Linked DNA regions of Homo sapiens. The protein of the gene in region 1 interacts with the protein of each later gene in a pairwise test. Each region holds a gene or a part of one and is shown in the gene's direction. Other genes may lie near its edges. The genes, in order: ROPN1, DBF4B and AKAIN1.

Region 1 (3,756 bases):
AAGTCCTTCTACCTACATGAAATTCTCTCCTTACTCTCATAAGTACACATATGCTTACTGAATACCTGCCCTGTACCCGGCTGTCTTCTGAGGGCTTGCAGTACAGCAATGAACAAACCAGGTTTTTCCAAGTCTCAGTTCAGATATCTCAGATATCACCACTCTTTGAAAAGTATTTTCTGACCTCCTTCTAATACCTGCAGATGTTAGATGCCTCATCCAAGAGTTTTTCTTCTGTTTTTCTTCTGTTCTTCTATATCTAGTGCAGGCTTCTTGACACTTATTATACCTTCTTTGAGTCACTGATTTTCCTGTCACTCTCTTCCACTGGACTGTGAGCTCCATGAAGCAGAGTGTGTGACTTATTTATTCATGTATCCCAGTATTCAGCACAATTCCAATAAAACACATAAATTTTGTCAGATTAATGATTTCCTAAGGATCACATAATTAGTCATAAATAGACCCAGGGCCAAAATCCTGGACTCCTGCCTCACAGTCAAGAGTGCTTCTTCACTACAGCTTCATCTGCCCTCTAGATGTTATGCCACAACTAGCTACGAAGGATAGCAGCCCTATGTTTTGCTTTGGAAAAGGCCAGTGCAATGCTGAATATCATCAGGAATGGTAATGGAAACTGAAGAGAAACATAGCCCTAATCTTATATTGGAAACTATAGTGCATTCACCCCCTCAGAGCCCTTGCTTGTAGGTTTTAAATCTCTGACTCACAGGAATGCTATAATGAAATCAGAAGTAGGAAGGACAACTTCTGATTGTCCTTCTGACCTGATTGTCAGCCTGACCAACATGGTGAAAACCCGTCTCTACTAAAAATACAAAAATTAGCCAGGTATGGCAGCACACACCTGTAGTCCCAGCTATTCAGGAGGTTGAGGCAGGAGAATTGCTTGAACCCAAGAGGTGGAAGTTGCAGTGAGCCAAGCTCATGCCACTGCATTCCAGCCTGGGTGACAGAGCAAGACTCCATCTAAAAAAAAAAAAATGTAGGAAGGACAAGTAAAAGATGAAAATGGTGTGGGGTATTATGACACTTACTCTTAATAAAGACTTTCATACTCTTATATAAGACAGGGCTAAGGTGACCCAAGTGTGTACACCAGGTCCCCAAATCAGGGAACCATGTTGCACAACTTTACAGGACATAGTTTACATGCCAGTCTGTAAATGAGCCATGTGTCCCTAGAATTGTGGATGATGATGCGAATGAACACGAGGGAAATCTTTGAAATATGAGCATGGCTTAGATAAACCAAAAGAGGTACCTATTCATTTGTTAAATAATAAACATGTAGAACTCATGCTTTCAAGAGGTAATACTAGCATGATATATAAGCAAGTTTGGGAAATTTGCTAATAAAGCCAAAAACTACTACTCAAAAAAAGGACAAGGTCAAGTAGGACTGCTCTTAGCAATATTGCTGTTGGCATCCAAATGCTGTGTTGACTTGGCCATGGGTTTGTCTCAGGATAGAAAAAGATCCAGGCTTCTGTGAAACACAGTTGAAGAAGGAAAGTTAATACGAATAAGGCAAATTGGGGAGATCTTGAAAGTCAGACAGGGCATAATTTTTATAAGAAAAGAGATGAAGATCCATTAAACGTTTTTCAGAGTTATGTAAAAACATGAGTGGTTAAGAAATTTTATTGGAGGGCAAGATGGCCAACTAGACGCAGACAAGTGGAACAGCTCCCACAGAGGAACTGAGATGACTGGAGTGCTTTTAACATGTCTTCAGAGGGAAGGCACAGACAGTGGACAGAGGGAAGGCACAGAAGCTTGGCTGAAGGGGGAGAAAGCTGGGAACCCCATACAGGCTACCATACACTGAAGCTCATTTTTGAACCACAACAGCTCTGGGGGAACGAGTGAGTTGAACTAGCAAGGAGCAACCTGCTCTCACCAGGGTCCACTGGAACCCTGGAAGGAGGGGACCCCTCAGTCACCACAGAAACTTGAGGTGGCAGGGAGAGCTGCTTAGAGAAGTAGGGCAGCAAGCCAGCTGATGTGGACCCCAGAGAGTTTGGTGTGGGAGTGTTTGTAGTACAGCATGGCCAGGGATGGCCATTCCACTAGGCTCAACTTGCTCCAATAAGAGACTTTAGCTGTAGGGGAACTGTTGGACCTGATCTCTGCAGGGCGGTCTTGTTCATCAGATGGGGCTGGTCTGATCTGAGCACCCCTTGGTCTGCTGGCCTCTTCCAGGCACAAGCCTGGCCATGCCTGCTTACAGGGCAGTCTCAGGTGCCTTGGGGGTCCACACCATAGCTTCTGCACTGGTGGACCATGCCTGATCAGTGGAGAGCTCCAGCAAGGTGGCCCCTATGGCTGCATGCTGCAGCCAGTACTTTCCCTCCCCATACTACAGCTTCCCTGAGCCCACAACAACTACCCACATCACTTTGCTGGCCCATGTCTGCACAGGCAGGTTTTGTTTTACTTGCCCCGCCAGCACACAAGAGTGTAGTCCACCCCTGCTGACCCCCACTGACTGCCACTGCAGACAGAGCCTTGGAGGGTACAGAACCAGCAAGCACCACCCCTGCCAACACCTTCCCTCGTGCTAACACTGTGCAGAGAACAGCAGATCCTCCTCCACCCTAAGCAACCACCCCTGCTTGCAGGACACAGAGAAGTCACCTGGACTTGCACCGGCCAGCACCCCACCCCCATTCAACACCACCTCCAGTGCAACAGCACACACAGTCTCCATCAGGGACCCCTGCTCCCCACAATAGCTGCCTTGCCTCTGCCACTGTGTGGTCATTTCAGGAACTTTTGTATGTCCCTGAGGACTTTGGAAACCATTTTTGTAATAATATTAATAAAAATTATTAATATTTAATTTTAAATTACCTTTTATGATGGAAAGTAAATAATATATATAAAGTACTTAAGGAGACTATAGGCCTTTTTGACTACAACAAATCAGTTTTCAAAGAAAATATGGCTGTCCTTAAGAATATTTTTAAATAAATCACATGAAATTTTTGAAAACTTAAGCATTTGGTAAGTAAAGGGGGAATTTTGGAAACATTATTTAATTTAGTAATTACAATTCTAGATTTTCACAAAATATAAATATCATTTATTTCAAGTATAATTTAAATATTTTGATTTTTTTTTTTTTTTTTTTTTTTTTTGAGACAAGGTCTTGCTCTGTCACCCAGGCTAGAGTACAGCGGTGTGATCTTGGCTCATTGCAACCTCATCCTCCCAACTCAGCCTCCTGAGTAGCTGGGACTATAGGCATGTGCCACCATGCCCGGCTAATTTTTGTATTTTTAGTACAGACAGGGTTTCACCATGTTGCCCAGGCTGGTCTTGAACTGAGCTCAAGTGATCCGCCCACCTCAGCCTCCCAAAGTGTTGGGTTTACTGGCGTGAACCACTGCACCCAGCCAAAAAATATTTTTATAAGACTTTACTGAAGGCCTAGAGTCTCCTTTACTAAATCATTAAATTATTTTCTATTATTTTTTTAGAGGCAAATGTTTATTATTTTTGTAAACAAACAAGTCATTACAAAAGTCCATTAAGTATCAGATTTTGGATATTTGTTTAACATCAAAAGCCAAGAATAAATAAGTCACAAACAAATCAAGTCACAATGGGAAAAAAAGTGAACAAAATCTACTGTTTTCTTAGGGACAAATGATGATGATGATGGTGATGGTGATGATGAAGAAAAATCATATAACTTCTTTGTTAGGAGAAAATAATGTGAAAAATAAG
Region 2 (3,756 bases), on another chromosome or scaffold:
TTGCACAGTATGACTACACCATAATTTATTTAACCTACTGCCCGTTGTTAATCAATATTTTCGTTGCTTTTGATCTTTTGGTATTGCAAACAATGCTGAGGCAGATACCTTTATTATACAAATTCTGTCACACATGTGAAAAAAGAACATGCTGAACCATCTTGCCTCTTAAAGTTTCTGCTTGGAAGTGATGTCACTTTTTTCTTTTTTCATGAGCCAAAGCAAGTCATATGGCCAAGGCTTCGTTCGTTCATCAGGGCTGAGATGTATAAGCTTCCTCAGGGAGGAGTCCCACTGGAAGAGATACCAAGTTTATGTACTGTATATACCTCTACCAGTGTTTAAAAAATATCACCCTGGGCCAGGCGCGGTGGCTCACACCTGTAATCTCAGCACTTTGGGAGGCCGAGGCGGATGAATCACCTGAGGTCAGGAGTTCGAGACCAGCCTGGCCAACCTGGTGAAACCCCGACTCTACTAAAATACAAAAATTAGCCGGGCATGGTGGCAGGCACCTGTAATCCCAGCTACTCGGGAGGCTGAGGCAGGAGAATGGCCTGAACCCGGGAGGCAAAGGTTGCAGTGAGCCAAGATTGCGCCACTGCACTCCAGCCTGGGCGACAGAGCGAGACTCCCTCTCAATAAAAAAATAAATAAATATAAAAACTATCACTCTGGTTGCTGAATGGAGAATGGATTATACTGGGGAGAGATAGGAAGCTACTCGGGAGTAGAAGTGAAGAATTGACCGCAGTACTTTAGGCAAGAAATGATAGCAGCTTGAACTAGGGTGGTGGTGGTCTGATTCCAGATGTACTTTGGAGGCAGAGTTAGTAGGATTTTTTTCTTGGAGTGGGGATGGGCACAAGGGAAAGTACTGAAAGACAACTTCTAGGTTTTTGGTTTGAGCAACTGGGTGAATGATTGTGACATTTGAGTAAACAGTAACATTTTACTGAGAGGGGAAGACCTGGGGGGAGAACAGGTGGTTTTTTGACAGGGGCAGCGAAACAAATGTTCTGTTTTGAATGTGTTCAGCCTGAGGTGCCTATTAGACATCCAAATTGAAATAGCCAGTAGGCACTTGAATATGTGAGTCTGGAGATCAGACAGGTCAGAGCTACAGAAAATCTGAAGGTGTGGCAGAGCTGAATTGTAAAGCTGTGGAGCTGGATGAGATCTCCTAGGGAGATAAGGGAGAGGGATAAGGGCTAAAGCGTTGGCATACTCCAAAATATATAGGTGAACAGTGGCTTTGGATCCAGCAAAGGGGACTGAGGAGGAACCATTGAGATAGGGAAAAAAACGGTAGAGTGCTGAGTCATGGAAGCAAAAAGAAGAAAGTATTTCAAAGAAGGAATAGTCCATCTATAAGTTGGATATGATAAGGATAGTATTTCAGACTGTGGAAATCACAGTTGACCTGGATAAGTACAGTTTTTGTGGGGAGGTCCCCAGCTCTCCACTGAATGATCTCTTATTAGATCAAATTTGATCTCTAATTAGCAGTCTAATTAGATGGGTTGAAGAAAAGATGGGAAGTGAGGGATAAAGATACGTCTTTTGAGAAGTTTTGTTGGGCAGGTAATAATTGAAGAACGGGAGGGGGACAAAAATGTGAAGATGAAATGATGTGTAAGTGAAATCTTTATGTAAACTGCAAATGCTCTGCAAGTGTTAGGCTTATTTTGTTATTTAGTATTCAAACTTCTAGGAATTTCAATGCAGCTCAGTGTGAAGAATCACTAAAAAGCGACCACTAGTCCTCAACTTGAGGGCCATTAAGGGGCAAAGCCGTCTAGCCAGTGAAGAGCCAAGAAATGAAGAGACGGTTTGAGAAGACGTAGGCGGTGGGGGAACGGAAAGAGGAATCGCGAAACTAATATTGTCCTTCCAAGGACACCGTAGGGCGGATCTCGCAGCTACGGCGTTCTTTTAGGGGTGGAGCCGGCAGGAAATTTAAACTGAAGCCGCGGCCGAAAACGCCAAGAGATTGATGCTGTAGCTGCCCTGAGATAACCAGGACTGTGGAATCGGGAAGAGCTCATGGAGCTCGCGAATGTAATACGGAGGCCTCTGAGGAAGGAGTACGGAGGCCGAGAAGGAGCCGGCATTTGATGAGCGAACCGGGAAAGGGTACGGATGCCGGGAAGGGGAGAAAGAAAGGCGGAAGGGGTCGTTAATAGCTGAGGCGAGGTGCGGAGTCGTGGAGGGGGCTTAGGAAGTGACCAGCGGGTAGGTGCCGAAGCTGAGGAGGGTATAGGGGCCGGGAAGGAGCCACAGGAGTTGAGGGGACCGAGGAATGAAGGTGGCAGAGGAACGTAGGGGACAACAGCCTGGAGGGATGTATGGAGATTGAGATGGACAGGAGGTGGCCAAGAGGTCACGGCCGTTGACTGAACGGAGTCTGAAAGGAGGCGGAGGGCATGAGGGGCAAGAGCCTGGCGGGAGTCGCGGGATGTAGGTCGGAATGGAGTTGAGTCTTGCTGTTCCCAGGAGTCGCGTTTCTGTGCGCGTTTTGGGAGACAGTAGTGGGCGGGAGGCATGGAAGTTCCAAGGGTTGGTGAAGATGGTTGAGTTGCTGTTATGTCCTTTCTCAGGAGACGATTGCCTCGAGCTGGAGAGTTCCATGGCTGAGAGTAGGCTCCGGGCCCCGGACCTAGGTGGGTAACAGGACAGAACTAGGGACGTGAGGTGAAAATTGCCCCAGGGTCTCTTGGAGAAGACCGAAAAATGTTCCCCCTGTTGGAGTTTTCGATCACTCAGTGTTTTTATGTACTTATTTATTCATTTTATTTATTGGGATGGGGTCTTGCTGTGTTGGCCAAGCTGGTCTCAAACTCCTGGCCTCAAGCAGTTCTCCTGCCTAGGCCTCCCAAAATGCTGGGATTACAGGTGTGAGCCACTTCACCAGGCCCACTTAGTGGTTTTATGTGTGTGTGTGTATGGACGCAGCATCATAGACCGTTTTGGGATTCATGATAAAGGTCAAGTAAGAGTCATATTATGAACAAGATTAACAGACAGATGTGGAGTCAGGATAGAGTGACTTATTAAATATATAAATTAATACATTCATAGTTGTTTACAATAAAATCCTTAAGTTAAACACTGCTACCTAATTAGGTAAGTATTTTAGCACATGGCACTTCCCTCCGTACTGCCCCTTTAGTTAATATCATCTAGTTGGCCGGGCGCGGCTGCTCACGCCTGTAATCCCAGCACTTTGGGAGGCCAAGGCGGGCGGATCACGAGGTCAGGAGATTGAGACCATCCTGGCTAACACAGTGAAACCCCATCTCTACTAAAAATACAAAAAATTAGGCGGGCGTGGTGAGGCGTGCCTGTAGTCCCAGCTACTCAGGAGGCTGAGGCAGGAAAATTGATTGAACCCAGGAGGCGGAGGTTGCAGCGAGCCGAGATTGCGCCACTGCACTCCAACCTGGGCGACCGAGCGAGACTCCGTCTCAAAAAAAAGAAAAAAAAAATACCGTCTACTTTTACTTCTGGATTGTTAACAGATATGCCATCGGCTTGTTGCCTTTTAAACAGTAATCCACTTCATTTACTGAGTTATTCATTCTTCCCATCTCTTGTTGGTTTTTTTTCCCCCTTCTGTTTCTCTGGAGAACTTCAAGAGTGTTTTCAAAAGGAGGCTTTGTGTGATAAACTAAGAATATATTTATTTCAGCCTTGTAGTAAAATTTAAGTCAATTTTTTTTCCTTCAACACATTGAAAAATTACAGTATTTTCTC
Region 3 (3,003 bases), on another chromosome or scaffold:
TATGCAGTGCCTCTGAGACATAGTGGGGCCAAATATGACACTGTAATTGCAAAAGTAGTTTTGCAGGCCAATTTATTTTTAAAGTTCTTTTATTTGAAAAAAAGAATTCTATGTCTCGTTTATTTACTTCTGCCTTTTATGCGTTCCTTCTGTGAATTTAACAAGCAGCCTTTTTGCTGAAATACTGAATACAGTACTGAGTTCTTTATGGTATATTAAAAAGACATGCTAGAAAGGTGAGGGAATGCAGTTTTAGTTACCTTCAAATGTGAAATTGAAGGCTTTAAGTGGGTTCAGGTCTAAGATCAAATTAAGAAAAGGGAAATTCTAAGGCTGAGTCCCTCGGGACCATACCAAGGCATTTACTAATATTTATGTTATTTTAAGAAAGGGAGGAGTTTAAGTTTCTCAAGAACTCAGTCTTTTAGTCTCAATTCTCTGAATGATTTCATAATTGGTGTTTATGCTCTGTGTAGAAATCTTTTGGGAATATTATGGATTTCTTTTCTCAAGATTAAATAAAATAAGACAAGTGAGTCTACACATGTGAGTTGCCAATGACTCATTTCCTTAGCAGCCTCATGGAGAATGGCTAGAAGTGTAGATTTCTTCAACAGCTGCCTATCATTAAGAGACTTACACTTGGGGCTGATTATGGGGTGCAACATCCTTGGAAGGGATTCTGGGGTCCTTAACGAATGCTGTTTTGCCACTAGGCTATGCATTTGCATTAGGACCTTACTAACTTTTCCCATTCACACATTAAATTTTTTTTTTGAGATTATGAAAATCATACAGGTCAGGAATACATGAGAACACAATGGGGACAGTAAAGTGACAGTGTTTTGAATGCAGTGACAGAGATATGTGTGTGTACACGTGTAATAAAGTTATCTGTGCAGCAACAGGATCAATCCCTGCTCCACTTCTGTGAGGATAATGCACATATTTCTGGAGTATCTACAGTCCCATTTCCTGGGCTTCACAAAAGTTATTGAATTGGTGCTATTGGGGACAGAGGAAGAATTTGACCTTGGTTAAAAACCTTCTAGTTTCAGAGTATCAATATCTACATTTGATTTTTTTTTAAAGCAAAGTATTCGGGTATAAATTGTGACTGATATTAAGATATACTTCTAAAATTCCAATATGCTACAGTTTCTAGAATAAATAGTTGGATAATAGATAATGAATGAAAAATATCTTACCAGCTTTGTTATGCTATCTCCCACAGTGCACAGGTGGAATAAATTCACAGGAAACATGGAAGGAGAAGGAAGCAGAAGGGCTTAAAATTTAAAGATTGTTTACTCACAAGTATTTCTTTTAGCAGAATTCATGCCAAGTGAAGAGTGAGTTTAAGTCGACCAAAAGTCATATAACTGATGTGATATAATTGCATAGCATACATAGTGAGAATGAAGGTATTCAGGGAAATTATTCAGGAGTGCCACAAATAAAATAAATAAATAAATCTAATGCTTGTAGTTTGTAAGTGATCTGGTACTATGTCTACTCAGATATCTGGATATGACCAGCCTTTGTTTTTGCTGTCAAGTGACAGAAACATATAAACATACTATTTTTCCTCTCTGATGTGTCTGTACTAAAAAATTGGGAATTTTTGGAACATCTTATTGACCTCTGTGTCTAAATGTTATTTATAAATAAAACACATACAGCTTTGAAATATCTTAAGCAAAGTTTTCTAGACTCTGCCGTTTGGCTCATTTTGTACGTGGATCTTACCATTATTTGGAACCATGAGACTTCCAAGGCTATTTTCAAACCCCTAGATATCATGACCAGGGGAAGTGCTTCCTTAATGGGCCCTTCACTGTGACTGTGTGAGGACAGCCATGGGATGGTGGGTCCTGAGGCTTGAAGAGAAAAGGATGTATGCTAAGAAGTGGTCTTTTGATCTAAAAAATTCAAGGTAAGTGGGTCTGGAAGGTAGAGTGTCTGCCATAATTTTTGAGATGGAAAATCGACAGCAAGGAACAGAGATATGACTAAGTTGTTGGGAGGACAAAAGGAGGTTCAGCAATGCCTGTCCTCAATAGGTAGGTGCCATATTGGCAAAATTCTAAGAAAGCTCAGTCATAAAAACAAACGAGTTAAAGACCTATAAACTTTTACAGATCTTTCAGTATGAAGAAAAAGTTACTAGATTTTACAAGGGGCCTACAGAACTTCATTTGACATAGGATTAAGGTGGATTTCCACTTGATTATCATCATAAACCAGATCACAGCTTTTAGTTTCAGAAATGAGTGGGAACATTTACTTAGTGTCCTTTATCTTTCTGATTTACTGCATACACAGGCTTCCCATCTCTGTGTGTTCAGCTGTTCGTCTTCTCTGTTGCCTGCCCCTAGGGTGGATCTAAAGAAAGAAATCCTTTCATGTTACTTTTCTCTGCTGTAATCATCTGTTCAGTGCAAACAGTATTGTAAATTGATGCAAAATGACTAACTCGTTCCCTTCATTTCTTTTCTTATTTATTTTTTAGCCGTTTAGGTTTCCTTTATGGTGGAATTTCAGGTTACAAAGAAATGAATCTATCATTTAAAAATAATCATTGAATTTATGCCATTCAAAGATGAGTAACTGGCCATCTTCCAGGCTGTTTTAAGGTTTCTATGATAAAACAATACAAAAGAGAGGGATCTTTAATTTATCCACTGTAATAGCTTAGTCTAGTAAAATACAGTAAAATAATAAAATCTATGAAAAATCTGAAACTAGTTTAGCCCCTATAATACCAAAACAGATGTAGAGACAGGAAAGAGGAAATTACGGTAATAATATCTTTCTTGAGCATGTGAAAGTTTTCGAAAGATATTAGTACAAATTCCCTCATTTATCTCATTGCCACAACCTCAAACTAAGGTGTAGCCTGAGAAATCTTGATATAGTTTGGCTGTGTCCCCACCCAAAATTTCACCTTGAATTGTAATCCCCACAATCCCCACATGTCAAGGCTGGGACCAGGTGGAGGTA

Evidence for each region.
Region 2: the proteins of ROPN1 (region 1) and DBF4B interact in binary tests that used the Homo sapiens proteins (3 or more experiments, as listed by UniProt).
Region 3: the proteins of ROPN1 (region 1) and AKAIN1 interact in binary tests that used the Homo sapiens proteins (3 or more experiments, as listed by UniProt).

Annotation. Positions count from the first base shown.
Region 1 is NC_000003.12:123,985,401-123,989,156, reverse strand, and holds part of ROPN1 (ropporin-1A), read left to right. Parts: intron 1-3,756. UniProt on the Homo sapiens protein: Important for male fertility. With ROPN1L, involved in fibrous sheath integrity and sperm motility, plays a role in PKA-dependent signaling processes required for spermatozoa capacitation.
Region 2 is NC_000017.11:44,706,704-44,710,459, forward strand, and holds the start of DBF4B (protein DBF4 homolog B), read left to right. Parts: upstream 1-1,961; 5' UTR 1,962-2,117; coding exon 2,118-2,136; intron 2,137-2,148; exon of another isoform or gene 2,149-2,235; intron 2,236-2,596; exon of another isoform or gene 2,597-2,600; coding exon 2,601-2,663; intron 2,664-3,756. UniProt on the Homo sapiens protein: Regulatory subunit for CDC7 which activates its kinase activity thereby playing a central role in DNA replication and cell proliferation. Required for progression of S and M phases.
Region 3 is NC_000018.10:5,142,370-5,145,372, reverse strand, and holds the end of AKAIN1 (A-kinase anchor protein inhibitor 1), read left to right. Parts: 3' UTR 1-2,462; downstream 2,463-3,003.